Homo sapiens: one gene and its partners. The protein of the gene in region 1 interacts with the protein of each later gene in a pairwise test. Each region holds a gene or a part of one and is shown on either strand. Other genes may lie near its edges. The genes, in order: ANXA11, KRTAP13-2, TFG and NFKBID.

Region 1 (9,145 bases):
CATTGTTAAAGCCTTTCCCACCAGGACCTTGTAAAGAGCCCATGCAAGCAAGGGGCCTTGCAGTTTCCTGGTGAATCCGTCTCTATTGACAGCATTTGAAAAATGATTCTGGCAGACAGAAATCCAGCTGCTATCAGATCTCTAGCTGGAATGGCTTGTCAGACTGTGGTACCCCAGCGGGGGACAGAACCCAGGAGAAAAAGCAGGTTTAGAGAGAAAAAGTTCATTTCTTGACATGATAAATTTGAGCTTTTGAGGGATATTCTGGTAAAGGTACTAGTAGGCTGGTATTTATTGATACATCTGTAATTCTTGTACCTCCCTCCTATTAAAGAAAATTCAAACAATCCAAACGAATGCAGGGAAAGAGAAAAAAGAAACAACAAGAAAGCATATTGTACATGATATTTGAAATATTAAGCCACTGGTGTAGCCTGTTTGCTGACTAATTAGAATCTTAGAAAAGGTCCTAGAGGGTCTCCCTGTGAGAAGCATTGACCCTTTTTTGCCAGATCAGAAGAAGGTCAGGAGTGGGGGCACTGTGGGGTCTCAGGTGAGCAGCTATTTACCAAGCAGCATGGAAGAATTCCAGTTTGTAATAATTTATAGGATTTTATCAATGTGTTCTAGATGAATATCCATTTCAAGGGTATATGTATAACACAAATGATGGCAGAAATAAACCCAAATATTTCTGTTATTCTTATCAATGTGAACTGGTTAAACTCACAAATTAGAAATAGAAACTCAGATGAACTTTTTAAATCTTGTAAAAAACAATATGTCATTTCCAAGAGATAAACCTAAGTAACAATACAGAAAGAGTAAAAAAGGAGAAATAAAACATATACTAGACAAATGCTATCTCAGGATAACAATATTTATACAAAAAGTAATAAAACTGAATAAGTCATAAAAGGATAAAACAATATTAATTTGTATAAGCCTAATAATTTGCTCTCAAAATTATAAGGCTGGCCGGGTGAGGTGGTACATGGCTGTAATGCCAGCCACCTAGGAGGCTGAGGCAGGAGGATGGCTTGAGGTCAGGAGTTTGAGGCTGCAGTTATAATCACACCTGTGAATAGCTACTGTACTCCAGCCTGGGAAACATGGTGAGACACTGCCTCTTAAACAAAAATCAAAAAACCAAAAAAAATAGTATAAAGCAAAATCAGACTAAATTAGAGGGAGAAATTGACAAACTACAATAAAAGTGGGAAATGTTAAACCTACTCTTTCAGAAATCAATGGATTGAACAGGAGAGAAAAAAAAAAAAAACCCAGGAGATAAAAGATCTAAATAACCTGATTAGCAAGCTAGATGGAGAGATATAGAGAAAAAAAAACCACATAAAAAGTGAAGAGACGTTCACAAAAATTGGGACAGCCAAAAAAAGTCTGTATATGAGGCCACAAAGGAGGCATTAACAAATTCTAAAAGAACACATTTCCTCATCTCCAAGCATTAAAGTTAGAGATCAATGACAAAATGATTGATTTATTTTTATTTAAATTTTTTTTTGTAGAGGGGCTCTCACTGTGTTGCCCAGGCTGGTCTTAAACTCCTGATCTCAAGCGATCTTCCCACCTTGGCCTCCCAGAGTGCTGGGATTACATGCCTGAGCCACTGGGCCCCTCCCCAAATGATTATTATTATTTTTTAAAAAACTGAAGTTTGAAAACAAAAAAAGAATGGAAAATATACGTCTAAATAATCCATGAATTAAGCATACAATCCTAACATAAAAAACAAAATATTGGCCAGGCACAGTGGCTGACGCCTGTAATCCCGACACTTTGGGAGGCTGAGGCCGGTGGATCACTTGAGGTCAGGAGTTGGAGACCAGCCTGGCCAAAATGGTAAAACCCCATCTCTACTAAAAATTAAAAAATTAGCCGGGTGTGGTGGCGTGCACCTGTAATCCCAGCTACTCAGGAGGTTGAGGCAGGAAAATCTCTTGAACCCGGGAAGTGGAGGTTGCAGTGAGCTGAGATCTTGCCACTGCAGTCCAGCCTGGACGACAGAGCGAGACTCTGTAACAACAACAACAACAAAATCCAAATATGTATAACTAAGTGATAACAAAAGCATAGCATATTAAAACTTGTGATATTCAGCTAAAGCAGACTTTTGAGGGAAATGATAGTCATATATACTTATTAGAAAACAACAAAAGAGGCCGGGTGCGGTAACTCACACCCGTAATCCCAACACTGGCCCTAAAATTAAAATTTTTAAAAAGGAAGCTTATATACCATACTACTCAGAGCTATATAGCACGTCACCATTTTTTACAGTGCACTCACCTTCCCTTACCTTGTATGATGTTTCTATGAGCCCTGGGAAACAATGAAGCAGGGGTGATTTTATGGATTTTTATAGGTCACGTTGAAGATTTTATAGGTGAGAAAGCCGAGGCTCGGAGGATGCATGACTTGCAAGTGTCAGAATCAGAACTAGAATAGATCCCACACATTTGAACACCGAGTTTGGTGTCTTTTCCTTCACACCGCGTTCTCTGGGGGTGCCTGGGCGGTGACCCCTGCCATTGGCCTTGAGGATTAGGGCCTCAGCTCGGGTCCTCTGCAGAGCCTCCTCAGTCCCTAGCAACTTGCTGGCACCTAGCCGGGGCTAAACGCAGGTTTGTTGAAAATTATAAAAGGGTAAGCCCAGGGGTAGCTATTCACCATTCTGGGTTTGAAGAGCTCTGATGCAGAAAGGTGTATACATCCAGCAGGAATTCCACCCTACATGATTTATTATAAACGTGGTATTCTAGGAGCATTCGCTCAGCCACGGAGAAAAATGGGCCTTTCGAAGAAGCTGGCCTTCGCGGTCGCTGTGGGGCGGCAGAGCAGGCGCAGGCGTCCAGGCAGTGGGGGCTGGGTAGGCGCCAGGAGACCTTCCCGGACCAATCCCCGGGCCCAGAGAGAGCGCCTGGAGACCTTACCTCCCCAGGAAATTCACACAGATTTCTTGGGGGCTTCACACCCGCGCCCCCAGTCCCGCCATCTCCTACGCCGCAGCAGGCGCCCCCACCAGGGTAATAACCCACTCTGAGAGTCTCTGGTGGTGCCTCTGATCCTCTGCTCTTCTGTTCCAGGCAGCGTTTTCTCCGAGCGGCTCTGGAGACTTTGGCCTGAGTTTCACCCTCACTCGCCGACTCATGTCCAAAAAATGCAGTCCAGCCCCGAAAGAGAGCCGCGCCTGCTGGTGGGGGTAGGGGGTGTTGGAGCGGCCACGGAATATGACTGAGCGCCCGGGGCCCGTTGTGAGGCCGGGGCCAGGCTGTCCCAAGGCACCGTTCCTGCCCGGCACCAGCACACCTGCCCAGACAGGGAGAAGGTCGGAGCCTCCCCTCCAGTCCTTCCGGATTTTATTGTTCAGAGCGACTTTAAAACGCAAATCGGGCCGGGCGCGGTGGCTCACGCCTGTAATCCCAGCACTTTGGGAGGCCGAGGCGGGCGGATCATTTGAGCCTAGGAGTTCGAGAACAGCTTGGCCAACATAGTGAAACCCCGTCTCTACTAAAAATGAAAATTAGCCGGGCGTGGTGGTGGGCATCTGTAGATCCAGCAACTCAGGAGGCCGAGGCAGGAGAATCGCTTGAACCCGGGAGGCGGAAGTTGCAGTGAGCCGAGATCGCGCCACTGCACTCCAGCCTGGGCGACAGATCGAGACTCCGTCTCAGAAAAAAAAAAAAAAAAAGGAAAATCGAACCAGCAGCTTGTTTGTAACAGCCAAACATAGGCAACAACCTAAATGTCCTTCAGTAAGGAGCTAGGTAATGAAGAATGGTGAAGCGCACGATGGCGCGCAGTGTGCAGTGGATGGGAAGAACCAGGTCTGTTCAGGAGCACTTGTATGGAAAGACCCTCCAAGATATAGTGAGTAAAAAAACATGTTGCAGAAAAGTACTGCAATATCGTTTTGTAAACAATACGTTTATGTAAACACACACACACAGTGTTAAAGAGAGATATTTGGAAGGACACACCTAAGAGTGGGCTGGGGGAGTGGAGGGAAGAGTGAATCTCAATTTTTACTCATTTTTTGAATTTTTTATTTTTAGTTTTTTAGAGACTGGGTCTCACTATGTTGCCCAGGCTAGTCTGGAAGCCCTGTCTTCAAGCCATCCTCCTGTCTTGGCCTTCCAAAGTGCTGAGATTACAGGCGTCAGCCACCACTCATTAAAAAAAAAAATTGTATACCTACCATATATGCATATATTACCTGGGTGACCTTTTAAAAATATGCTTTATTTTTAGAACATCTTTAGATTTACAGAAAAAGTGTGAATACAGGGAATTCTCATAAACCCGGGCTTTTCCTATTATTAACATCTTAAGTCATTTTTATATCTCCGTGGGTTCCTCTTGGCTGTGACAGTGTCCTAGACTTTCCTTGTTTTTGATGACCTTGCTAGTTTTCAGGAGTACTGGTCATGTATATGGCAAGGGCCTCAATTGATTTGTGATGTTTTCCTCATGATTACAGTGGGGTTAGGTGTTCTTGGGAGGAAGACCACAAGCGGTGCATGCAATCAGTATGATTTACCCCTGTCGAGGTCACCTTGACGGCTGGGTGGTTTGTCAGGTTTCTCCACGATAGTCACTGACCGCTCCCTTCCTCACATACTGTGCGTGACCTTCCCCCCTCCACCACCACCGAGTGTTGCTATAAAGGAAATGCGTTTGACCTTTTCAGTGTAAAAAGTTTTCTCGACCTTAAAGAGAGTCACTAACCGACGCACACGGGGCTGGAGAGGACTTAGGAAATGCCCACCCCTGCAGGAGGGCGAATGCGGCTCTGCGCGGCACTGGGCGCCGCAGGGGTTAGGGGCGGCAGAGGGACCTCCGGAGCCCGAGACTTCCTGGAGCAGCTCCGCAGCCGGAAGGCTGCTGCTCCTCGCGGGCCCGCCGTGCCCAGTCCTCATCTTGGGGGCGGGGCCGCGCTCAGGCCCCGCCCCTCCCTTGCACTGCCTCTGGCACCTGGGGCAGCCGCGCCCGCGGAGTTTTCCGCCCGGCGCTGACGGCTGCTGCGCCCGCGGCTCCCCAGTGCCCCGAGTGCCCCGCGGGCCCCGCGAGCGGGAGTGGGACCCAGCCCCTAGGCAGAACCCAGGCGCCGCGCCCGGGACGCCCGCGGAGAGAGCCACTCCCGCCCACGTCCCATTTCGCCCCTCGCGTCCGGAGTCCCCGTGGCCAGGTGAGTGAGGGTCCCGAGCCGGCTGGGGGCCTGGGACCAGGCGGCGGCAGTGCACCGCGGCGCCGCGGGTGAGGCCCGGGGCTGCCTGGCGCCCAGCCCAGCGCGGCCCTGCGGCTTCCTGGTTGCACTACAGGCGTGGGGGTGGGGGGCAGGGGAGGGCGTCGGCGGGTCGCGGGCGGGCCGTGTCGGCCTGGCAGCCCCCTAGATCAGCCTCGGCGTCTGGGGCTGCTCCCTCATGTGTGGTCGGGGTGCACTCGCCGTCCCCCCGGGCTCAGGGGTCGGGGTCTCAGTCTGGGCCTGGGTAGGGCCAGGGGCCGTGACCCTGGGCGCAGGAGGCAACGGGTGGCGGGAGGGGTGCCGGAGGCCCGGCCCCGCAGCCCTGCGGAGCCCTCCAGGGTGCGCGCGCCCTTCTAGGCGAGGCTTGGGGAGATTAAGCAGAGAAGGCTATCTTCAGGAACTTTCCTCCGAAACTGGGAGCACGCACATTCCTGGGAGCTGCTACCATTGCAGTTTATTTGTAAGGAACTCTCCCCAGTGTTTGAGGGAATGCGGGAGCCATCCCAGGTGCTGTGCGTGCCTTCGCCCCTTCCCCAACCTTGATCCCCAGTTTCAGGAAGGGATTCCTGGACTTGTATCTCCCATGGGTGCAGGCCAGGCCCTTAAGACTTAGGTAAAATGGTCTGTTGGTTTAAAGGAGACACGCGAAGTTTGTTACCTAGAGACTTTGGAGGGGAAAAGTTAAGCCAGCCAGTGCTAGCCCAAGCTGGAAACAGTCAGCCCGGGGCATTTCTGTCTCTGCCCTCCAATCCTTGACCTCTCTGTAGAGATTCGGCGTTTGTGGTAGCTCTCCCCTCTGTTCTCTGCGCTGGGCATGGAGTGGAGCTGTGAGGCCGAGCCCCTGCCCTGCCCTGCCCTGCCCTGCCCACGCAACAGGGACTAGGTTTGCAGGGCAGGGCCTGGTATGCTCACCCTTCACTGGCTCTCATTGCTTTCCTCATTCCTTTTATGCGGCAGTCAATTGTTGGGGATTCCAGGGGATTAACAGGGCCCCTTTCCTCAAGGCATTCTTTGTGCTGCAAGGTGTTCCCTGATAAGAGAGGCCAGGTGAGGTGCCAGGGCAGTTTGTTGCCCTGGCATTGGGTGCCCACTACTTCAGGCTCCTGCATACCTTGCTATCTTTTCTTTGACTATTGTCTGTGCTTTGGTTTTTCATCTGTAAAATGGGGGTAATAGTAATCCCTGCCTCACAGGCTTGTGAGATTCAGTGCATTCATTTATTTAATAACAATACAGAGCTCAGGTACGGACCAGTCAGAACAGGTGGTGACTGCTGCACCACACTTGTGTATCCCAGATGGGTGTCACCCACATTAGCCATAAAGTGTGTGAGGCAGGCCTGGGTCATAAATAATCAGGTGTAAGGGTCAATAAATAGTAGCAGTGGAAGGTTCAGCTAAAGTTGAAATGCACTTCTCCTGAACCGTCTTTCTGGCTTAGCTCATGCTAAGCTCATGCTCTCTGTCTTACTGGAATGCCCTCCCTCCCCTGTCTGGCCTAGCATTCTCCACCCTCCTGGGAGCCATCCGGGTGCCTGCTCCCAGCAGGAGGGACGGGATATGCTCTGAGCTCACTCAGCCCTTCTGGCACTGACTCGGTTCTCATCTCTCGCCTTGCATAGTATTTGTGTGGCGGTGTGGCTTATCGCTGCCCTGTCCTCTGACTCTGGAGGGTGGGGGCTGTTTCTGACTTACCTCTTGGTGGCAGCACTCAGGATGGGCCTTGCCTAATGTAGGTGCTCAGAAAATTAGTTGTCGTTAGTTGAACAACAGAGACAGCACAGGGAAGTGGTTTCCCTGTGGTTAAAATATAGGACCTTGAAGGCTGGGTTTGGATAGAGAAACGTGGGGAGGGTGAGATGGAGATGAATTGGGACTAAGAGGTGGGAGTGGAAGCCTCACCTGACGCCTTTATGCATGATACTATAGAAAGGGCCCACCCTGGGTGGATGTGTCTAGAAGGCCAGGATCGATTAGTGATGCCTAGTTCACGTGATTGGGGAGGTGATGTGTGGCTTGGGATGACAGGAGTGGGAGTTGAGACAGAATAGGTTAGTGTGGGTTCTTCTTGGAAATTGTAGAATAGAGAAAAGAAACTGGTGTGGGCAGGAGCTGAATGTGGAACCAAAATGCATGCTGAATGCTGGAACATCAGAGGTCCTGGGACCTTTCTGGTGCACCCCCTCCTTCCTCCTGGATTCACCCCTCTTCTTCTGCTGTCTTTTTTTTTTTTTTTTTTTTTGAGACAGATTTCGCCCTGTCACCCAGGCTGGAGTGCAGTGATGCAATCTTGGCTCACTGCAACCTCCGCTCCCTGGGTTTAAATGATTCTCCTCCCTTGGCCTCCCGAGTAGCTGGGATTACAGGCATGCACCACCATGCCCGGCTAATTTTTGTATTTTTAGTAGAGACGGGGCTTCACCATGTTGGCCAGGCTGGTCTTGAACTCCTGACCTCAGGTGATCTGCCTGCCTCAGTCTCCCAAAGTGCTGGGATTACAGGCATGAGTCACCGTGCCCGGCCTCCTCTCTCTTCTTAGCCACTGTTTTCCCCCGTAAGCCTGAAGCAGTTCCTGGCACTTGTTCCCATGGGGAAGCGTCTGTGTAAGGGTATGCTTCACCAGCACTGCCAAGGAAGTAGACTTTTCACTTTCTCTGGATTTTTCTCTGCAACACCCTCTGATCCCATTGCCCCCAGAATAGTAGGAATTTTGAGTGATACCTAGATAGGAAAGCTCTTAGGATTAATGAAGAAACTGAGATTTTCTTGGTGGGAGTTTGTGCTTTTAAAGGGAGTTGTTGCAATTCAATGGAACTCTGTAATAACCACTGAAACTGTTACACATTAGGCTTACTGACCCTATCTCCTATAACCCATGAAATAAAGACCTGATAGTCACATAGTTGTTTGCTATTTGGGAGGATCCTAAAAGTACAGCCTGAACAGTGACCCAAACCACAGCTGGCCTTGCCCATGCTGATGTGAGGAAGGAATGGGTGGGGGCAACTAAGAAATTGGGGGACAGAGTTCTCTGTGCTAGGTATCCTAGGACAAGCCACCCAGCCACACAGAGACCCCCCGCTTCCCCCCCACAGAACAGTTCTGGATGATAAAATGCCTGCCTGGAATGGAGAATCAGATGAGAAGATGTTTGCAAAGGGGTTTGAGATCAGTTAGCGGGTGGTGATGACAATGTTGATACCGTGGGTGTGTGACTGCCAGGAGCTGTGAAGCAGAGGGTGGAGTGTGCGGTGGTCAAAGCCTGGTTCTGGGATCTCTAGCTTTCCAGGGGCTTAGGCTCCGCCTTAGCAGAAAAGAAGGAAAGGAAATTGAGAAGGAAGTCAGGTGTCCCCTGCCCCTCACACTTGGGGATGGCTGACTTGGAGGACATGAGATGGGGGAAATCTGAGTGAGGGCAGAGAAGAGAAATGTGGAGGCTGCTCACAGGGAGGCTAGGGAGCATATGGCATATCCAGCCTGGGGAGTGGCACCACTGGGGGAAAGGGTGCGTGTGACAGTGGGGAAGGAGTGGTGATAACAGATGTGAGCTTGCTGTGTCCACTAAAAAGGTCACGGCTATTTTTAGGAAGTAGGTGACAAGGCATGTTCCTGTAGAACTGCTTATTACTGAGAACCCACTGTTGGCCTCGCCCTGCGTGGTGTGCTTAAAAGGAGAGACCGCCCCCACTCACCCTAGAGTCATCCACCTGGTGTCCCTGAGACATGGGACACTGGATGAGGACCAGGTTTGGAGGATGAAGAAGATCATGTATTTGGTTTTGGACATGTTGTGTTTGAGGTGTCTTTGAGATACCAAATAAGCTGGTGGGTCTGGGGCTCAGGAGGCGTCTTGGCTAGACAGACATTTGTCTAGGTTGTG
Region 2 (7,581 bases), on another chromosome or scaffold:
AGAATGACTTGAGCTCAGCAGTTGGAGGCTACAGTGAGCTATGATCACACTACTGCACTCCAGCCTGGGCAACAGAGCAAGCCCTTGCCCCCTCCACCAAAAAAAGAACAGAAAGGAAAAAACCCATTGAACTGTACTCCTAAAAATGGTGCATTTCATTTTATGGGAACTGTGTATCCACAGATCTGACTTTACAAAAGAGTCAAACAACTGACCAGAGGAATATATTAGCAACATATGAAAGACAAAGGCATACAAAAAGAATGCACAAATTCTCTAAAAATACATTTAAAAGAACAAATGACTCCATAGAATAATGGCTAAAAGATAACAAAATATGAGAAACTAAAACAGGTCTGAGTTACACAGCTAAGTGATGGAGCTGGGATTCAAACTCTGCCAGCCTGAATCCAAAAGCCTTGATCGTAACTACCATGCTAGAATTGAAATTATGTATGTCCAGCAATTGCATCTAAATATACATGTTCCAGAAGCCCTAGACAGTAGATGCAAGGGCCTATATAGAAGTATATTTCTTGCCACATGGTTTGTGATAGTAAAAAATCAAGAATGGTAGAGCGATATATCAATAAAATATTTTTATACAGTAGAATTCTATAAATTTGTAACAAGGAATAAACTAGATGTGTGTATCATAGCAACATGGTTATTTGCATAAAGTCTGACAATGGTGTCAGTATTGCAGTTCAAATCTCATCTCTGCTACTAACTACATGGGTAGCTTTGGCAAGTAACTCAATCTGTTTGTGTCTCAGCTTCCTCAGCTATAAAACAAGAATAAAAGTGGTGTGTACCATGTAGAATTATTATGAGGATTGAGTTAATATTTGTAATACAGTGCTGAGAACAGTGCCTGACATTTAAAAGTTCTACTGTAGTGATAATAAATGCACAAATATATAAATATCAACTTGGATATGTTTTAGATATTTTTATTTAAATAAATTTAATATAAAAAGAAAGCTACAGATACATATATGTATCCAATAAGATGGCATTTTTGTAACTTAAAACAACAATAAATGGTATAAACCGATAAATATATGTATAGACAATTTCCTGGAATGCTATGCAAAAACGAATGCATTATTGTGATGCCTTTGGAAAGATATGAAAAAGAATCAGACTGAGAGACTGGCCCACAAGGGGTCTCTCTCTGTAAGATAGCGAATAGAATGGTGGTTACCATAGGCTTGCAAGGGTAGTGGAAAGAAAGGACAGAGAGGTGTTGGTTAATGGGTGCAAAAATATAGTTAGATAGGAGGAATAAGATCTAGTGTTCAGTAACACAGTACAGCAACTGTGGTTAACAATAATGTATTGCATATTTCAAAATAACTAGAAAAGTAGATTTGGAATGTTCTCAACACAAAAAAAATGATAAATGTTTAAGGTGATGGATATGCCAGTTACCCAGATTTGATCATTACACATCGTGTGCCTGTATCAAAATATCACATGTACCCCATTAATATGCGCAACATTATGTATCCATAAACATTTAAAATAAAAAAGAGAAAGATGAACGCAAATCTGACAACGTGGTAACAATTGTGAGTTTAGGCATCCAGAAAATGACTCTAGAATTTACTTTAATTTTCTATTTGTTTTCAGTAAATGCAAGGGTAAGGTCTCAGAAGAGATAAGAAGAACCGAGAGGTGTGTAAGCAGGCTGTTTATAAATCTTTTTGTTTGTTTGTTTGTTTGAGACGGAATCTCACTCTGTCGCCCAGGCTGGAGTGCAGTGGCATGACCTTGGCTCACTGCAACCTCTGCCTTCCAGTTTCAAGCGATTCTCCTGCCTCAGCCTCTCCAGTAGCTGGGATTACAGATGTCTGCCACCACGCCTGGCTAATTTTTGTATTTTTAGTAGAGACGGGATTTCGCCATGTTTGAAAGGCTGGTCTCAAACTCCTGACCTCGTGATCCACCTGCCTCGGCCTCCCAAAGTGCTGGGATTACAGGCGTGAGCCACTGCGCCCAGCCTGGCCTTTTTATTTCAAACGAAAGTCATGGATGATGAAGACATAAAATGGATGAATTTGAAGCAGGAAGAGCTGTAGTGAAGTTAGAGGAGGTGCCAGGGCCTGGAAAAGTCTCAAACAATGAGGCCGGATGACCTCCGAGAAAGCCACAGGCCTGGGTAGGCTTGCATGGGGGACTGGGAAGAGACCATGAACAGGTTAGTCCAGGGAGTTCTCATCAAGCCTTTACTCAGTAGTGGGTTCTTCATAGTTAGCATTAATGTTTAATAGATACATTTCCCCTTGGGTGAGAATTTTAAAAATAAAATCTAGTGTAAAGCAGCTGTTATGAAGACTCTTTAGTGACCAGACAATAAAAGCCTCTCCTAGGTCTAGAGAAGGCAGAAAATTAAAAAGTGAACAGAAAGTAAAAAGGTGGCCGGACGCGGTGGCTCACGCCTGTAATCCCAGCACTTTGGGAGGCCGAGGCGGGTGGATCATGAGGTCAGGAGATCAAGACCATCCTGGCTAACATGGGGAAACCCCGTCTCTACTAAAAATACAAAAAATTAGCCAGGCGTGGTGGCGGGCACCTGTAGTCCCAGCTACTCGGGAGGCTGAGGCAAGAGAATGGTGTGAACCCGGGAGGCAGAGCTTGCAGTGAGCCAAGATTGCACCACTGTACTCCAGCCTGGGTGACAGAGCCAGACTCCGTCTCGGAAAAAAAAAAAAAAAAAAGAAAGTAAAAAAGGTATAGGGCAGTATATATGGATTTTTACTATTTCTACTACTGCCTAATATTTGGTTAATTTGAAAGCTTTTGAAGAATCTCTGGAAACATTGCAATAGAAGATTGTCAGTTTAAAGCTTCTGCTACATTACTATGTTAACTTGGAAAAACAATCACTTTTCAAGTAATTCAGATCATAGGCTACTTGTGGCTACTGTGTACTGTAATGATAGTTTTATTCTCTGTAGTGTTGTTATGCCTAAATTTCTAAAGAGAAAAGAGAAAGAAGAAAGAAAGAAAGAGAAAAGAAAGAAAGAAATAGAAAGAAAGAGAAACAGAGAAAGAGAGAGAGGGAGAAAGGGAGGGAAGGAGGCAGAGAGAGAGGGAGGGAGGGAAAGAAAAGAAAGAAAAAGAAAAGGAAAGAGAGGCAGAGAAAGAAAAGAAAGAAAAAGAAAAAGAAAGAGGGAGGGAGGGAAGGAAGGAAGGAGAGAGAGAGAAAAGATTTCAATATCACGTTTTCCCTGACATATCAAGATAGTGAATTTTTCTTTCTATACTAATACTTTGCCTGTGTATGTAGAGTACGTAGAGTATTTTATTAGTTCCAGAATCCACTTTTGAACTGTTAAGGCTACTCTAGTTTTGTTCTGCTTTTTCTGCCTTTCAGATGGACACATTTATTAGCATTTGGGAGTTGTTCATTAGCATTTGTACAAAGTGCACAAATAACTCCTAATAAAAAGTGTTAACCCAATTAGGAATGGGTGGAGGGACTGTTAATTGGAACTGACTTACTCCCAAGTTATTTTAGTGTTTATTCCCAGACATAGGGAGCTGGTCTAGAAAGGCAAGAACTTTTGGATATTAGTAAGTTTTTTGTTTTCTTTTTTTTGAGCAGAATCAACCTGTAGTAAGAAAAGAAAAATATTTCTCATTTTAAAGGTGTTAAAAGCTGCCATTATAAGGAATCCCATGTGTTGGGGGTGGTGCATACTTTTTGGTGAATTTAATAGGTGTCCATTCATAAAGCACAGCTTATTTTACTTCAGTGAATCAGAGTGATGGTTTAAGTATTGCACAAGGGCACTTCATGTGATGCATGCCACACTTTGGATTCTGCATGGGAGAGATAATCATAAAACAAAGTAACTAAGTGCTCTGAAACAGTGTGCTTTGGAATGAAGGAAGTTAATTTTCAGGTAGTTAAGAGGCTCTCTTTTCGATAACCATTGTGAATGCCATTTCCCTTAGTTAAACCAAATAAAATGTCAAATTCAAAAGAAGAAGAATAGACACAGATAAGAAGCCTCTTCCCCCCATTAATCTAAACATGGATTACCAATATTCTTTCTCTTTCTTGGGCTAGGAAGTGAAATATACTTCAAATGTATGAAGATCAGTAAGGCATAGAATTCCCCAGTTGAACACTATTCAGTGTGAATATTGTTAGGAAAAGTAAATAAGGCTTTGTTAGGCTTTTATATCTTAGTATAAATAAGCTTAATAGTTTCTTTTCTGAGACAAGTTAAAGTTGAATTTACTTTTATATTTGCAAGGTATTTGCAACTTGACTCTGAATAAGAAAACCATAATTAAAGCTTCAATTTTGCTTCTATCTTACTGAGAAATTAGGGGAAAGTTAAAGCTCTCTGAGAGGTAATTTTTCCATGTATGGGTTGAACAGGGGATGTTTAAAGACCCATATAACTCTAATACTTCAAGTTAAAAGCTTCAGAAAAATGTTAACAATTCCTCAAAGTTTAAGTATAAATTAATAATTGCAGCTAAGAATCTGTCCTTTTATCCAGAAAAAAAAATTGAAACATAAAACAAAATAAAATTTATGAGTTGATTTAGAGCATAACCATAGAATAGTGCTTGCTACAAGATAGGTTCATCAGAAAATATCTGAAAAACTTCAATTTAAAGTCTTACTAAAAAGTTTGTGTTTATTGTTTCCTAAGTGAGCATTGTCTAAAGTAGCCTCTTGTTAAGGAAGATGCCTGATATGGACACCCAACATAATGCTGCACTCCTCAGTTCTGATCCTGAGCTCTTAAGGTACTAGTAAAAGGTTTAACTGACAGATTGCTGAGGCTACTGAATACAGTTAGTATTTGGAGAAATCCTCCGTTTCTGGTAACAAATAATATGCTTGTGTTAAAAAGAAGGACAATCTATTTTGAGTAGTAACCACTGATGCTCCTGATAACTTAAGGGAAGTAAAGAAAGAATTTTGTGTAATTCCATTTGGTACAATAAGGACTCACTGTACTCAAATAATAAGAGGCAAGATACTCATAAATGTGATGACATATAACATTGAAGGTCAAACCACAGTGAATTCCAGGAAAAAAAAAAACTGAGTGGCTTCCTTCTAAGTGTTCCAGAGTGACTAAAGTACAAGTAAGTATATGAAGATGTGATAAATTAAACAATAACCTAGGGAAGCATTCTTATAATAAAAAGTGAGCAAGGAGAAGGGAGTGTCGAGACAGTGGACACACCCAGGTCTAAGAGCATATATAACTTGGAGTCCAGACTATGACATTCAAACTCAGAGAATCTTTCCACTATAACTCAGCTGAACTCACATCTCCCGTCAACATGTCCTACAACTGCTGCTCTGGAAACTTCTCCTCCCGCTCCTGTGGTGACTACCTGCGCTACCCAGCATCCTCACGTGGCTTTTCCTACCCCAGCAATCTGGTCTACAGCACTGACCTCTGCTCTCCCAGCACCTGCCAGCTGGGTTCCTCTCTCTATAGGGGCTGTCAGGAGATCTGCTGGGAGCCCACCAGCTGCCAGACGTCCTATGTGGAGTCCAGCCCCTGCCAGACCTCCTGCTACCGCCCCAGAACCTCCTTGCTCTGCAGTCCTTGCAAGACGACTTACTCTGGGTCTCTAGGCTTTGGATCCAGCAGCTGCCGCTCCCTGGGCTATGGATCGAGGAGCTGCTACTCAGTGGGCTGTGGGTCCAGTGGTGTCAGATCCCTGGGTTATGGAAGCTGTGGCTTCCCTTCCCTCGGCTATGGATCTGGATTCTGCCGCCCAACCTACTTGGCTTCTAGGAGCTGCCAGTCTCCTTGTTACAGACCAGCCTATGGATCAACCTTCTGCAGATCAACTTGCTGAATTTCCAGACCTTTTAAGCAAAGTGTCTCAGTCTCTACGTAGAGCTGTTATCATAGGCATTTCCAGCAATGTGAGCTAACCCCTCTTACTACTAGCTCTTCATCCTTTCTCTGGCATCAAGTACTGGCTGGACAGGCTAGTTCTTTCAGACTGTGAAATTAATGAATGAGCAAAATATAGAGTCAAATGTCTATAATTTTGAAACAAGTGATTCGTTATCACGTAAGTTCATCTTATAAAGTATATGGAAGTTCAGTTTTGTTTCACGTAATAAATTCATTTACTGTTGATTCCAATATGTTCTCTTTGTCTTTTATTGGTTTCCAAAGTTTGATTTGTGATCTGTTTTGGGGGCTCCAGGCCCCCAGACGTCTTTTCCTTGGACATCCATTTCCATCGGTAATGTCATCAGGCCTAGTGTGTGGGGAGATTCTCCGGGCATGCCAGTGCCTAAAAGACTGAGCAAGTGCATGTCTTCTGCCATGAAAACTGGTTGGATTCTTAACAGAATTATTGAGAGTACACTCATAATGGTGGTGTGTTTTCAAGGAAGACACATTTTGCTGACAATCATATTTGCTTTTTGTTTACATTTTTAAAAGAGTATTTAGAGTTTTCTCAGAAGATGTCAACTAGGTGATTAAATATAAAATTATGAAATATTTGAATAAATCTGAAATGTTATGATGGAAAAGGGAAAATATGAAATGTTAGGTACTGGAGGACATTACGGTTGTGTTTAAATATAGGAGAAAATTAATTATTCAGTGTGTGTGTGTGTTTGTGTTGTGTGTGTGTGAGAAAGAGAGAGAGAGCACAGAAGACAGAAAGACTTAAGGTTTACAACTGTGAGTAATGGAAACAGTTATAGGGAGAAATACTTTGGCTTGTTTTAAATGTATATTTATAAATCATAAATTTATAGAACTATTATGACCTTTGTGTTTTCTTTGGATTATTGAGTTTATCAACAAGGAAAAAGATATTACTTTTCAGTGATTTCTGCATTGAGTGGCAGTTAAAATTAGATTACTTTCAATGTTCTAGATTTTATAACCTCCCTCAGTATCCTTGGAATCCACTGCTCAGCTGTGACAGTGTGAATAAAAATAAATATTTGTAGGATGCTATTCACATCTGAGATATAAGACCTTCTCTATTTATTTTAATTTAAGCAAGTGATTTCTTTCAGAGGCTAAAGGTAGTGTAAAAGTTCAGCTAAAACTTTTTCATAAAATATTCAATAACAACTCTCCATGAATGGGAAAACAACTTTGAAAGATTATCATTTCCTCCAATAATATGTCACGAGCTTTAATTGATTTTTTTCCCTGACACCTTTCCCTTAAGCTTTTTATAATTAAACCTGAAAAAAGAGGGTATCTTTTCTCTTATAATGGAGACAATACGGGCTAAGCATGGAAGTGTGGGAACCACATCCTCTGATCATAGAAACCTGCCGCCACAGAAACTAGAAGAATAGAGAAGGGAAACACGGGAAGAAACTCCTGGCAACACAGAAGCCTCTGATTCCCATGTACCTTAAGCCAGCTTTATTCATCCTTTAAGTGCTTTGATCATATGGGTCAATAAAGTCTTCTTTAGGTTTAAACTAAATAAAATAATTGAAATAAAATAAGACTTCTGGCACTCTCATACAAAGATTTACAATACTGGCAAACCAAATCAAGCAACACATCAAAAAGCTTATCCACCATGATCAAGTGGGCT
Region 3 (9,000 bases), on another chromosome or scaffold:
AGTAGAAATAAAATGTAAAATTTGAGATTATAACCTTAGTTCAGTTTCTTTTTATAAAATAAAGCCTTAGTTCCTATAATTATTATTTCCAGAGTGCCCAGTGGGTATCTGATACTAGGATATAGGTTATTGGGCTCCAAAAAAACCAAAAAAAGTAAAATGTTTCTCTTTATCAAGGAGCTTGTATTTTTTTCATCTAATGTTTCTTACAAAAGGAGGTAAATAATTTTTTTGGAAAGCTTTTGTTCATCTTCTGTTTCTTTTTGCCCTCTTCTCCCTGTTACTAGAAGGAAAAATATAAAAAAAATAAAGGAATTAAAATGATCTGTAATCCTATATTCCGACATGCTTAACATTCCAGACTATCATTATACACCTGCATTATTTCCCTTGTACTTTTAGGCCTTACTGAATATAGATAAAAAGGAAACAAGTTTTTGTTTATTCCTCTATTTTTACAGATACTGTGGATGGTAGGGAAGAAAAGTCTGCTTCTGATTCTTCTGGAAAACAGTCTACTCAGGTTATGGCAGCAAGTATGTCTGCTTTTGATCCTTTAAAAAACCAAGATGAAATCAATAAAAATGTTATGTCAGCGTTTGGCTTAACAGATGATCAGGTTTCAGGTAAGTTGGTTTCCAACTCCTTTACACCCTTCGTTTCCTTCATCTTTCCGTTCTTCCCTTTCCTTCTTTCTTTAATTGAAGAATAACTTGGATATGGTGAAGTGCACAAATCTTAAGGGTTCTGCTTAACAAATTTTTACATATGTGTACACTTATGTAAAAGACTAACTAGATTAAGATGTAGATGATTTCCAGCACTTCAGAAAGCTTTCTTATGTCCTCTCCCCAAGAGTAGCACCCTCCCCCTTAAAGAATAAGCACTGTTGGGTTCAAGTAAATTTTTGAAAGTAAAATTTAGAAAGTTTTTAAAAATCTGAACTATTTTATAATTTGATTAGTTGCAGTATTCGAATTATATTTGATTTGTCTTATCTCCTCATCTTAGAGAAATTGAAAATTAAATGTAGATTTTCTTGTTAAATTGCTTGAGTATACAGTGGGTTTTTATATAAATAAGTTTTTAACCTTAAAGCAGTACCTATATTGTTTTATTCTGTTTAACTTTTGGTTATAATTTCTTCATTATTTTTTCCTGCTTTTTCTCTTTTCGGATTCTAATAACACATACATTGGAGAGCTTGATACTGTCTCATGGGTCATTAAGGTTCATTTTTCTTCAGTCTTCTCTCTGTTCTTCAGGTTGGGTGATTTCTGTTGAACTCTTCAAGGTCGCTGTGATTTCTAATATGCTGTGGAACCTTTCTAGTGAATTGTTTAATTGTGCTTTCAGCTCTAGAATTTCCATTGGGTTTTTATAGTTTCTGTTTTTCTGTTGAGATTCTTTATTTTACATTCATTAAGTCTATATTTTCCTTTAATTGTTTGAATGTATTTATGTTTGATTCTTTAAAAATATTTAGCTGCTTTAAAATGTTTATCTGCAATATGTAACACTTGGACCCATTTGGAGTCAGTTTCTATTGACTGGGTTCCTCTCCCCCACACACACTCCCCCCAACTCCAGTAGGGTCACATTTTTCTGTTTCTTTGCCTGTCTGATAGTGTTTGGTTGAAAACTAGACATTCTGGTTAATATGTTGTAGTGACTTGGACTTATATTCTTTTGAGGATTTTCTGTTATTGTTGATCTAGCAGGGAGTTGATTTGTATGGACTTAACATAAATAACAAACAGAAAAGCGCTCTCTAAAAGAAAAAGGTATTTGGGAATAGAGCATTGCATTGAAAATATGCATGCCATAGTAAACTATGTGCATATTCAGTGAGGTAAAGGCAGACAAAGGTTTTTAAAGGAAAAAATGAGGAGAATATATAATTGTTTTGAAATAATTATTGTTGGCTACAAAGATCATTAGCAAGAGTGATGCCAGTCTGAGGTTGGACAGGCAGTTTCTGGGCAGATGTCCTCACAGTCACAGAAGTTTTTTTTTTTGCTTTTTTTTTTGCAAAGTTGTGATGGCCTTTGTGTAGGCTTGTGGTTTTTGAACTCTTTTGTGATAGTTTTTGCAAGAATCCTCTCTTCATGGCCTTATCAGAGTTTTTAATTTTTTTTTAACATTAATGACTTCATTTTGGTTTTGATAACTTTCACATACTCAAAACTGCTCCTTCTTTCTCCCTATGGTGTATAGCAGCTGATATGTATGCTCAGTCCTTTCAGCTTGCTCTAGGTGCTGCATTTTTCTCTGAGCCTTCTTGAGATATCCTCGTCTGCTCTCCCAGCCCTATAGTCAGCTGGGGATTTGGACAGAGTGTATATACCTAGATCGTGGGTCTTACCCTTTCAGTAGCACCTTCACTTCCGGGATTTTCCTCCTAAATCTTCAGCTGCTTGTCTAGCCATAAGGTTGTTAACACTGTGGTTTTCTGCCATTGGAGCTGCAGAGGTCAGCGCTTTTAATTCTTATCCATTCTAATTTTATTGGGGTAAACTCCTCTGGTTTCTGATTGACTTTCAGTTATTTCAAATAGTTTCTTTTGTTTTGTTCATGTTTTTAGTTGTTACCTGGGAGAGAGTTTATCTGATGGATTTACTTTGCCTTTATCAGTAGTTGGAAATGTGTACAGTCCATTTTGTATTTCTTAGAGACTTTCATGGAATTACTCACAAAAGAGAATTGTGTGAAAATTTGATGAGGTCAGACTTTTAAATTTTGATTTAAATGTAGTATATTCCAGACTAGAATAATATTAATATGATTCACATTATTTGAAGACCATTTTTCTCACAGCTTTGTATGTTGAATTATAGTAGGAAAAACTGTATGCATAGCTAGGATACTTTTGTAGTTCTTCAGGTGTGATGTGGTAAAAATGTGGCTTATTAGAATAATGAATGTGGCAGTGGGAAGGAGGGATAAAATATTACAAACATGGAATGAATATTAACTGTAATAAATTACATATAAGGGAGGAAAGAGGAGCCAAAGTAATAAATATATATATTTAGGCTAATAACAGTGTCTTTTGTGGGAAGAATGTGTGTATTTATCTACATAGATATAAATTTAAGTAAAATGGTGGTAGATAGAAACCATCATCCATTTTATTTTGGCAATCATCAGTCTCTCTTGCATTACCACTATTATATCCTAGTTTAGGTTCTTATTAATACTTGGACTGTCAGCTGTCAACTGTGCCTAATACTGTGGTAAGTTCTGGGGATACATCAGAGCAGAAGATAGAGGTTTGCCCTTAGAGAAATTAGTCTGCTGATAATAGCAAGTACTTATATGGAACTTTCTGAGTAGTAGTCACTTTTATAAGCTTTTGCTGTATAATTCCTTTTATAAGCCCATGCTATAAGCTCTTGTAAACTCATAATCCTCACAATAACCTTATCAAGTAGGAATTAGTATATCCTTTGTACAGATGAGGAAACTGAGGCACAGAAAGAGATTATGTAACATGTCCAGAGTTACACAGCTAGTGAGTGACAGCACTAGGATTTGAACCTGGGTAGTCTAGCTCCAAAACCTATGCTTTTAACCACTCTTCTGCATTGCCAAAGCAGAAAGAATTTAAAGGAATAAGACATATTTACATTGTCCTCAGAATATCTTTTTTGACTGTCACAGCATTGGAACTGTAATATATTCTCTCCATTCATTTCTGTGTTCATTATTTTGTAAGAATTATAGTGGCTCCATATGTAAGTTAGAGTGCTAGGCCTTGTTCGGCAGACAAAAAGAATCAACAGTCAGGAGCCCGGCCAAAAGAGTGCAGAGTCTTTAAGAGGGAAAGTGAGAGCTATTCAGAAATGCAAAGTAGAAGTCAGTATGAGTTAACAAAAGTAAACTAGATAGAAGTTCACTAGTAGAAAAAGTATTCATGAGTCAAGAAGGCTTACTAGAAGTGTGGAATTATAATTGGATTTTAAATAATGTTATATTTAAATATGTGAATGTTATATTTAAATATATGGGATCTAGTGGGAGAGAAATAGAGGTCAAAAAAATATTAGCTATGTTATGGGAGTAGGGAGAAGGTTAGTTTAGCTGAAAGGGAGGCATGTGAGAAGAGAAATTGTGAGAAATAATGTTTGGACCCTTAATGCCAAACTAGGAGGTTGAACTTAATTTATGGTCAGTGAAGACCCCTTGAAGAATGAAGTGACAATTTTGGTTCCTGTGCAGAATACATTGCTTGGAGTAGGGGGATATTGGCATTGCAGACATGAGTTTTGATTTTTGCAGGGAGAGGTTAAGACTCAGGAATATAGTACTCTACACTTTATAAGGAAGGAGTTCCAGTTGTAGCTTTGGATTAAGAGATTGGAGCAAAGGAAAAAATAAAGTACATACATTTAATGTAAAAAGGCGTATTTGTGGTTATATACTTATTCTATAGTACTTTTAGTATCTTTTAACCAAACTTATTCCTTGAGCTTGCTGGGGGAAGGCCTTGTGTTGGATACTAAACTGACTTTTTTTTGACTATCCAGGGCCACCCAGTGCTCCTGCAGAAGATCGTTCAGGAACACCCGACAGCATTGCTTCCTCCTCCTCAGCAGCTCACCCACCAGGCGTTCAGCCACAGCAGCCACCATATACAGGAGCTCAGACTCAAGCAGGTCAGATTGAAGGTAAAATAGAGTTTAGAACACATGTTTGGGAAAGTACATGTGTAGAAGTGTTTATTACAGCATTGTTGTAAACACTTCATGTATTTAGTCATGCCTTAAACACAGGAAAAATTTTGATTTACTGACATGATTTGATGTTAAAAAACCAAATAGAACAATATGTCAGGTATGTTTCCAATTATTGGAATGAAAAAAATACCTCAAAAAAGTGTTTCTATGAATATAGATACAGAGTGAAAGACCAGTCATTAGTCAGTGGTGACCCTTGGAGGGGAGGATAGTGAAGTTCAGACTGGTGATTTCACACTTTATTTTGTGTTATAGATGCTATTTTATCTCCCTCCTTTCTTCAACATCTGTGCATGATTTTTCTAATTTAAAAAAGATTTCTGAATAGAGGTAAAGGATAACTTTAGTTGTAGTGGGTTTTTTTTGTTAAGATTAGTAGCCTTTTATAATTTTGTAAATTTAGCAATATGTCTTTAATGGAAAAAAAGCAGTGTATTTTAAGTCAGACTTTTTCTTCTGAAATAATCTGTCCTTGGATATGCAGTTTAGTCTCTCTGGGTTTTGATATTCTTTCACTGTAAAATGTGAAAACTGGACTGAACCCAGTGGTTTCAAAAGAATGTCTTTAGTTCTGAATGAAATATAACCTGAAAGCTCCATATTTAAAATAGGGGATTGAAGGGCAACAGACTTCACACAGCAGGCACTAAGGTGCCTCATTGAAAACCTTGGAGTTCTGCAGAATGTGACTAAGTACTTAACTAATCTCTAGGGTGCCTTCCAGATAATGAAGTGTGATTTTTGTATTGTCTATGTGTGTTGGGACCTTTAAAGCCGCATTCCACTTCAAAACAAACACCAGGTGGTGCTCTAACTATTTGTTTAACGGGTCAGATAGTGGTATAATGTATTTCCAGCCCCAGAAGCAAGTGATTAAGGTTATCAATTACATTAAAACAAAAACAAAACATAGGCTAAAATGAACTGACCACTTTTGGAATAGAATCCTATCATCCTGTGGTGATACTTTCAGAGTTACCTGGCTAGGTGTGGTGCCTCACGCCTATAATCCCAGCACTTTGGGAGGCCGAGCCAGGAGGATCACTTGAGCCCAGGAGTTTGAGACTAGGCTGGGTGACATAGTGAGACCCTGTCCCTACAAAATAAAAAAAGATTTAAAAAAATTAGCCAGGTGCTATGGCATGTGCCTATAGTTCCAGCTACTTGGGAAGCTGAAGTGGGAGGATTGTTTGCATTGTTGAATTGAAGTGGGTGGTCTAGGCTGCAGTGAGCTGTATCACTCCACTGCACTCCAGCCTGGGCAACAGAACGAGACCCTGTCTCAAAAACAAACAAAGCCAAAAAAAAAAAAATCCACAGAGTTGTCTGTTGGATGAACACCAGTCATTATGGACTAGCAGGTGACATTTTGCTGATGAATCAGTGGTTTGCGAAGAATTTCTTATTGCTTAAGCCTTTTCTCAACCAACTTTAATTAACTCCTCCTCTGCACCAAAATGCTACTGCCAAAACTAGAACAAACTAGAACTAAAGCAGATGTCAGCTGAAATGGACAAAAGCAGAGTATAGGTATGATGAGAGTTTAATGCCTACATCAAGCGAACTAAAGATTTGTTTTTAAATAAATCCCATTTTAAGCAGTGTATACTGTGATACAATGACAGTTGGAAGGATCATTGTACCAAATAATGTTTGCTGTTTATGTATAAATAAATGGGAATTAAGGCGCTACTAGCAATATCTAAACATTCTATGAAGTGTTTAATTGAGCATTTTCAAATAAGTAAAATTTTAAAAATGCGAAAGGACATACAGTGAAAATTCTCTCTCCCACCTCTGTCCACAGCAACCAAATTCCTTTTTTCAGAGGTAGCAGATTAACACTGTTTATATGCATTTAATTTTTAGAGTAGTATTGTATGCCTTGCTGCAATTAACTGTTAGCTTACATTAAAACATACAGTATGAAAATTGTACAATTAATATGTGACATCATTTAAACTATTAATAACTGATCTAATTCTAGATCAGTGCTGTCCAAAAGAATTACGATAGAAGCCACATGTAGTTTTTCTATTTAGCAGCATTAGAAAAATGTTTAAGAAAAGGTAAAATTAATTTTATTTAGCCTAATGTATCCAACGTGTACTCACTATTAAAAAGTTAATTTTTTTGGTACTGTGTATTGGAAGTCTGGGATTTGACACTGATTTGGAACACTTCAAACAACAAACAACATATCACATTTCAAACAAGCCACATTTCAGGTGCTCAATAGCCACATGTAGCTAGTGATTATTTTAAGAGCACAGCTTTAGATAAATATAGTCGTTATTTATAGATTCCCAGCATGAATTATAGGCTACTTTTACTTTTTGTTGTATAATGAGTCTTTGACATTGTCAGTTATTTAGATCAACTACTGGTTATAATTTGAGCAGAATTACCAACATAAAATGTATTACTTATAATTTGTTAACATAGCAATCTCTTACAATGTGTTAATAGTCCATACTAAAATTAAGAATTCTGAGTTGTTACTTAACTCCCATAAAAGGGACTTTGGAACTGTGAATTTTATTCCAAATAAATGTAGTCTTAATATGTTTTTCAGTTAAAAGGATCAACAAGATATTGAGCATCATTAAAAAAAAACCAAAAGGGATAATGTTACTCTTTTTCATATAAAGCCAGTGCCTGTTACAGGAAGACTATGTGATGTTGCCAGAAATGTAACTGGTAAGGAGAAGAACGCTAAAAATCATCAGAGATCGGGAGATATTGCTGTTTGACAGCCTAAAAAAATGAAAAAGCATATAATTAAAATCTTTAAAATCATATGCCAATATAATGAAAAGCTGAGTAGCCTTTATTATGTAAATATTGAAACATACATAGAATAATCAACTCTTCATGTAGTCATGTGGCTTCAACACTTACCAATATTTTGGCATTCTTTTTTCATCATTTTTTCCCCACTGCACCCCTTTTAATTTGCTGGAGTAGTTTAAATCAAATTATGAACAGCTTATTATACTCAGGTATTTCAGTATATATGTCCAACTGATAATCTTCTTTTTAATATAACCACCATGCTGTTACTTAACAGTGATTCTTTTTATTTTTAATTGTGACAGGGTGTCACTCTGTTGCCCAGGTTGGAGTGTACTGGCTTGATTACAGCTCACCTGCAACCTCAACAGTGATTCTTAATGTCAACGTGTGCTAGTCTGTGTTTGAATTTCCCTAATTGTTTCAAGATTCGTTTGTTAAATTGACTTGTTCAAATGAGGGGCCTAACAAGGTTCACACTTTGCATTGTTAATGTGTCTTGAGTCGTTTTTTCTAATAGCCATTAGAAAAAACTTACATGTTTCTAAAATCCCTTACATGTTTCTAAAATCAAAACTATGTGTATTATTTATTACTGTGTAACTATTATCCCAAAACATAGATACTTAGACAACAAAAGTTAATTATCTCATACAGTTTTAGACAGATATCCCGGAATGGTTTAGCTGGGTGATTTTGGCTCAGCATCTCTCATGAGGTTGCAGTTAAAAATGGCTGCTGGGGTTATAGTCATCTGAAGCTTAACCAGAGCTGGAGGATTCAGTTCTTTACCATTTGGACTTCTCCATGGGGCTGCTTGGGTGACCTCATGACATGACAGCTTCACCAGAATGAGTAATCAGAAGAGAGTGAGGTAGAAGATAACCTTTTATAGCCTGTCCTCAGAAATGTCACTGTCATTTCTGCAATATTTTCTTGGTATACAGGTCAGCCCTATTCAGTATGTGAGGGACTAACAGGGAGCAGATACTCATGTGCTTGTTGCTTATTTGGTCATTTTTGTATTGTGGAGTTAAATCTTTCTAATTTCTAAGAATATAAACGATACCAACCCATTGTCATAAATGCTATACATGTGCAGAAGCCGTTGAGGGTCATGATAGAGGTTGGCTACTCTGTGTAATAAATAATTCCCAGAAGTCTTACCATTACTCTTTGCTTCATCCTGTTCTCTTTTCCCCTTAATTTTTTTTATTACTTTTTACTTTATTCTGTCATTGATTCTTTTTGAAAATATACATAAAACATAGCTTATATATAGTCATGCACTGTATAACATTTCAGTCAACAGTGGACTGCATATATGATGGTGGTCTCATAAGATTATAATGGAGGTGAAAAATTTCTATTGCCTAGTGATGTGTAGCCATCATAATGTAGCACAAGGCATTACTTACGTGTTTGTGGTGATTCTGGTGTAAACAGACTTACTGCCAGTCATATAAAA
Region 4 (5,089 bases), on another chromosome or scaffold:
ATGGAGTCTCGCTCTGTCGCCCAGGTTGGAGTGCAGTGGCACAGTCTTGGTTCACTGCAACCTCCCAGGTTCAAGTGATTCTCCTGCCTCAGCCTCCCGAGTAGCTGGGACTATAGGCATGTGCTATCACACCCCACTAATTTTTGTATTTTTAGTAATAATAATAAGTTTTTTAAAAATAAGAAAGATGGCTGGGTGCGGTGGCTCATGCCTGTAATCCAAGCACTTTGGGAGGCTCAGGTGGGCGGACTGCTCGAGCTCAGGAATTCGAGACCAACCTGGGCAACATAGGGAGACCCCATCTCTAAAAAAAATACAAAAATTAGCTGGGCTTGATGGCACATGCCTGTGGTCCCAGGTACTCAGGAGGCTGAGGTGGGAGGATCACCTGAACCTGGGGAGGTCAAGGCTGCAGTGAGCCATGATTTTGCCACCACACTCCAGCCTGGGTGACAGAGCAAGACCCTGTCTCTCAACAACAACAACAACAATAATAAAAGATAAGAACTCTTTCCCTGTAATCCCAGTGCTTGGGGAGGCTAAGGTGGGAGGATCACTCGAGCCCAGTAGGTTGAGGCTACAGTGAGCCTTGGTCACACCACTGCACTCCAGCCTGGGCAACAGAGCGAGACCCTGTCTCAAAAAACAAACAAAAAACATAGCTTTTTTTTTTTGAGACGGAGTCTCACTCTGTTGCCCAGGCTGGATTGCAATGGTGTGATTTTGGCTCACTGCAACCTCTGCCTCCCGGGTTCAAGCTATTCCTGTGTCTCAGCCTCCCAAGTAGCTGGGATTATAGGCATGTGCCACCACGCCTGGCTAATTTTTGTATTTTTAGTAGAGACGGTTTCACCATGTTGGCCAGGCTGGTCTCGAACTCTTGACCTCAAGTGATCCGCCCTCCTTGGCCTCCCAAAGTGCTGGGATTACAGGCATGAGCCCCTGTGCCCTTCGAAAAAAAAGAACTTTTTAAACCTCAGTATCATTGCTCTGTCTTTAAAAAATTAAAGATTTTCTTGTAATACCAAATATCCTGGCTGTATTCAAATTTCCTTTTGGCTGTAAAATGATAATTTTTTTCATTAAAAAAAATCAAGATCCAAATAAGCACACATATTATGATGTTACGTCTTTTCAAATCACTCTTAATCTAGAGCTTTGGTTTTGTCTTCATCATTTTTTGGACGAGCAAACTAGGTGGTTTTGCCCTGTTATCAGCACATAAAATGTTTAACATTCATTATCGTTACAAACTCCTTAAAGACACATAAAAAGGTTTCATTTTAGAAAATGTCTTTTATTTTCCCCCAAATATGATGGGAACAGCTCAATATTGTGGTGCAGTATTGCAATATTAGCTAGTCCACTGATTAATGCTGCCAACTCCTGTGCTTGTAGATAAAGTACAGTCTGTGTGGGTCGGGATGCAATTTAATGTGTTGAATGGAGGGCAGGTAGCCAAGGCAGTTGCTTTGAAGAACTGGAAAAGGAGTCTCTTTCTCAGACACTGGTGGGAAAATTGTCATGAGAAATGTACAGTTCTGGAAGGTGTATGGTGTGAATGGTACACCCTGAGACGTGGTGTTGTGCGGTGCACAAGACATACAACTGAATAAGGCACTCTTGGTGGGGCTCGCAGAAGAGGGCCAGCATCTTATTTATTTATTTATTAATTTTGAGATAGAGTGTCACTCTGTCACCCATGCTGGAGTGCAGTGGTGTGGTCATGGCCCACTGCAGCCGTGAACTCCTAGGCTCAAATGAACCTCCTGCCTCAGCCTCCCAAGCAGCTGGGACTACAGGTGCGCACCACCACGCCTGGCTAATTTTTCTATTTTTTGTAGAGATGAGGTCTTGCTGTGTTGTCCAGGCTGGTCTGCAGCTCCTGGCCTCAAGTGATCCTCCTTCTTCAGCTTCCCAAAGTGCTAGGATTACAGGCGTGAACCACCGCACTCCGCCAAGGGTCAGGGTCTTTAAAGACTCCTGGATTCTGTGGGAGGGCACCTAGGTGTGAGGCTGGCCCTGACCTCTGCCATTCCCTTCCCCTCAGGAGATCAAGAGCAACAAGACAGTTCTGCACTTGGCCGTGCAGGCTGCCAACCCCACTCTGGTTCAGCTGCTGCTGGAGCTGCCCCGGGGAGACCTGCGGACCTTTGTCAACATGAAGGTGGGAGCTGGGGCTGGGAAGTGCAGATTGTGTGGGGTACGGTAGGGGGGGCAGTGGGATGTTAGGGGTCCTGGGGGCTGTGGACGTGGAGGGGACGATGTGTGGGATCTGCAGGGGAAAGTATAGGAAGCAGACACAGATTGCCCCAGAACATGTAGTCCGTGGACACAGGGATGCATGCAGCGTGGCTGTGGCCGGGGGAGGTCTGGGATGTGAAAGGACAAGTGTAGGACGTAGACAAGGCAGAAATTGAAGTGCAGTTTAGAGGCCTGGGCCAGCTGAGCCCAGATCCCCACCAGCCCTCCCCTTACTTTTCCAGGCCCACGGGAACACAGCCCTCCACATGGCGGCTGCCCTGCCCCCTGGGCCGGCCCAGGAGGCCATCGTGCGGCACCTGTTGGCAGCTGGGGCGGACCCCACACTGCGCAACCTGGAGAATGAGCAGCCCGTTCACCTGCTGCGGCCCGGGCCGGGCCCTGAGGGGGTAAGTAAGCACTGAGCCTGCCTGTAGAGTGGCCTCTGAGCTCGCGGGCGCGGGATGACCTCCCTGCCCCACCCAATGCTCGCTTTCAGAGAATGACTTCTAATCTCGGAAGGTGACTTCAGCCCTCAGGCAACCCTGACTCTATAATGTGACCTCTGACCTCAGTGTTTCATCCTTTACCCCAGAATGGTGACTTCTCTGATCTCTACCCCAACCCTGACCTCACAGTGTGACCTGTACTTCCAACCCTGAATCTTGCTTGACCTCAAGGTGTGACCTTTGATCCCCCCAAGTGTGACCTCCTACCCCCTGCCCCTAACCTTGGGTCCTGACCTCAGATGTGACCTTTGACCTCTTACCTGTTCCCTTCAATTCCCTCTCATTCCTCACCCCCAGGTGGGAACCCCCAGCCAGCAGCCCCTTTCCCTTCACTGAAGTTCTGCTTCCTGACCCTTTCTCAGTGTACGAACCCAGGCCTTGACCTTCTTCCCACATCTTTATTTTTATTTGTTTGTTTGTTTATTTATTTATTTTGAGGCAGCGTCTTGCTCTGTTGCCTAGGCTGGAGTGCAGTGGCATGATCATAGCTCACTGCAGCCTCGAGCTCCTGGGCTCAAGGGATCCTCCCACCTCAGCCTCTCCAGTAGCTGGTACTACAGGCAGTCACCACCACACCCAGCTAATTTTGTTTTTTTTTTTTTTTAAGAGATGGGGTCACACTATGTTGTCCAGGTTGATCTCAAACTCCTGGCCTCAATTGATCCTCCCGCCTTGGCCTCCCAAAGTGTTGGGATCACAGGAACCATCACTCCCGGCCTCCTTCCCAAATCTTTTTTTTTTTTTTGGAGGCGGAGTCTTGCTTTGTCACCCAGGCTGGAGTGCAGTGGTGCAATTTTAGCTCACCGCAAGCTCCACCTCCCAGGTTCAAGTGATTCTCCCACCTCAGCCTCCCAAGCTGGGACTAAAGGCACACGTGCCACCATGCCCGGCTAATTTTTGTATCTCTGGTAGAGGCGGGGTTTCGCCATGTTGGCTGGGCTGGTCTTGAACTCCTGACCTCAGGTGATTTGCCCACCTTAGCCCCACAAAGTGCTGGGATTACAGGCGTGAGCCACTGCACCTGGCTCTTCCAAAATCTTGACTCTGGACCTCTGATCTTCAAATCCAAAGGGACCCACTCAACCTCTCTTCTCTAGCCCCTCCCTCTGCATGGCGTGCCTTCCCCACCTCTCCTTCCAACCTGACAGACTTCTCTCCCTCCTTTGCCTTGTCTACAGCTCCGGCAGCTGTTGAAGAGGAGCCGTGTGGCGCCGCCAGGCCTGTCCTCTTAGGACTCAAACCCAGACCCTGGACTGATTTTCCAGTCCCCACCGTCCTGCGGGACAGCCAGCGTATGCTAATGTTGCAAACCCATGATAATGTATGTGGAATATCCTGCCATTGGGGTTTTACATTAAAACCCCAGAATGGCTGCAGAGGGGTGAACAGGCCCCAATATTTGGGGTGCTGTGATACCCCTCTTCTACCCACAAGGAGCCCTCTTGATGATTTCTGTGAAATCGAGGCCCCTTGATTGTTTCTGTGAAACACCCTGCACCCCTAGTCCTTTCCCCACTGAGATCTTTCGGGTTCTCTCCCCTAACTCAGCTCTTCGTTCCCAGAAACCCAGATGTAATCCCCCTACGTGGTGCTTGGGGCATCCCGATACCATCTCAGTAAATCTCCTACAATGGCCTCCTCACCCTCCCCGGGACCCACACCCTTCAGGTCCTCACCCTGAGACAGGAGGGACCCTCTGAGATCAGGGACCCTTAGGTCTCACTGCTCTCTGATTCAGAGCTCAGCTGGGCCCCCAGTTCCAGACCCCAGCATTCCCGGTCACTCCCTCCCTAATCTGAGCATCACTCAAGCTCTTTATTAAACTCAATTTGGGCCAGATTTGGTGGCTCATGCCTGTAATCCTAACACTCTGGGAGGCCGAGGCGGGCGGATCACTTGAGGTGAGGAGTTTGAGACCAGCCTGGCCAACATGGTGAAACCCTGTCTCCACTAAAAATACAAAAACAATTGGCTGGACATGGTGGCATGCGCCTGTAGTCCCAGCTACTTGGGAGGCTGAGGCAGAAGAATTGATTGAACCCAGGAGGCGGAGGTTGCAGTGAGCCGAGATTGTGCCACTGCACTCCAGCCTAGGTGACAAAGAGAGACTCTGTCTCAAAAAAAAAAAAAAAAAAAAATTTAAACTCAATTTGGACTAGAACCACTGTTGTCTGATCTCTGGGGGCACTGGTGCAGGGGAGTGGCTGTGATGCCCGCTGAGGGGTCATATTGGGATGAATGTGCCTGAGGGGGGAGGATGTAGCAGCCACCATGGGTGCCAAGTCCATATCCTGTCACCCTCACCCTGGCGACACAAGAGGGACTGGCCTTTAGGAGGC

The links.
Region 2: the proteins of ANXA11 (region 1) and KRTAP13-2 interact in binary tests that used the Homo sapiens proteins (3 or more experiments, as listed by UniProt).
Region 3: the proteins of ANXA11 (region 1) and TFG interact in binary tests that used the Homo sapiens proteins (3 or more experiments, as listed by UniProt).
Region 4: the proteins of ANXA11 (region 1) and NFKBID interact in binary tests that used the Homo sapiens proteins (3 or more experiments, as listed by UniProt).

Annotation. Positions count from the first base shown.
Region 1 is NC_000010.11:80,201,407-80,210,551, reverse strand, and holds the start of ANXA11 (annexin A11), read left to right. Parts: upstream 1-5,014; 5' UTR 5,015-5,209; intron 5,210-6,060; exon of another isoform or gene 6,061-6,313; intron 6,314-9,145. UniProt on the Homo sapiens protein: Binds specifically to calcyclin in a calcium-dependent manner. Required for midbody formation and completion of the terminal phase of cytokinesis.
Region 2 is NC_000021.9:30,369,955-30,377,535, reverse strand, and holds KRTAP13-2 (keratin-associated protein 13-2), read left to right. Parts: upstream 1-5,264; 5' UTR 5,265-5,322; coding exon 5,323-5,850; 3' UTR 5,851-6,146; downstream 6,147-7,581. UniProt on the Homo sapiens protein: In the hair cortex, hair keratin intermediate filaments are embedded in an interfilamentous matrix, consisting of hair keratin-associated proteins (KRTAP), which are essential for the formation of a rigid and resistant hair shaft through their extensive disulfide bond cross-linking with abundant cysteine residues of hair keratins.
Region 3 is NC_000003.12:100,732,047-100,741,046, forward strand, and holds part of TFG (protein TFG), read left to right. Parts: intron 1-461; coding exon 462-626; intron 627-4,529; coding exon 4,530-4,670; intron 4,671-9,000. UniProt on the Homo sapiens protein: Plays a role in the normal dynamic function of the endoplasmic reticulum (ER) and its associated microtubules. Required for secretory cargo traffic from the endoplasmic reticulum to the Golgi apparatus.
Region 4 is NC_000019.10:35,887,452-35,892,540, reverse strand, and holds the end of NFKBID (NF-kappa-B inhibitor delta), read left to right. Parts: intron 1-2,050; coding exon 2,051-2,167; intron 2,168-2,486; coding exon 2,487-2,651; intron 2,652-3,928; coding exon 3,929-3,982; 3' UTR 3,983-4,589; downstream 4,590-5,089. UniProt on the Homo sapiens protein: Regulates the expression of IL-2, IL-6, and other cytokines through regulation on NF-kappa-B activity. Functions in the regulation of inflammatory responses.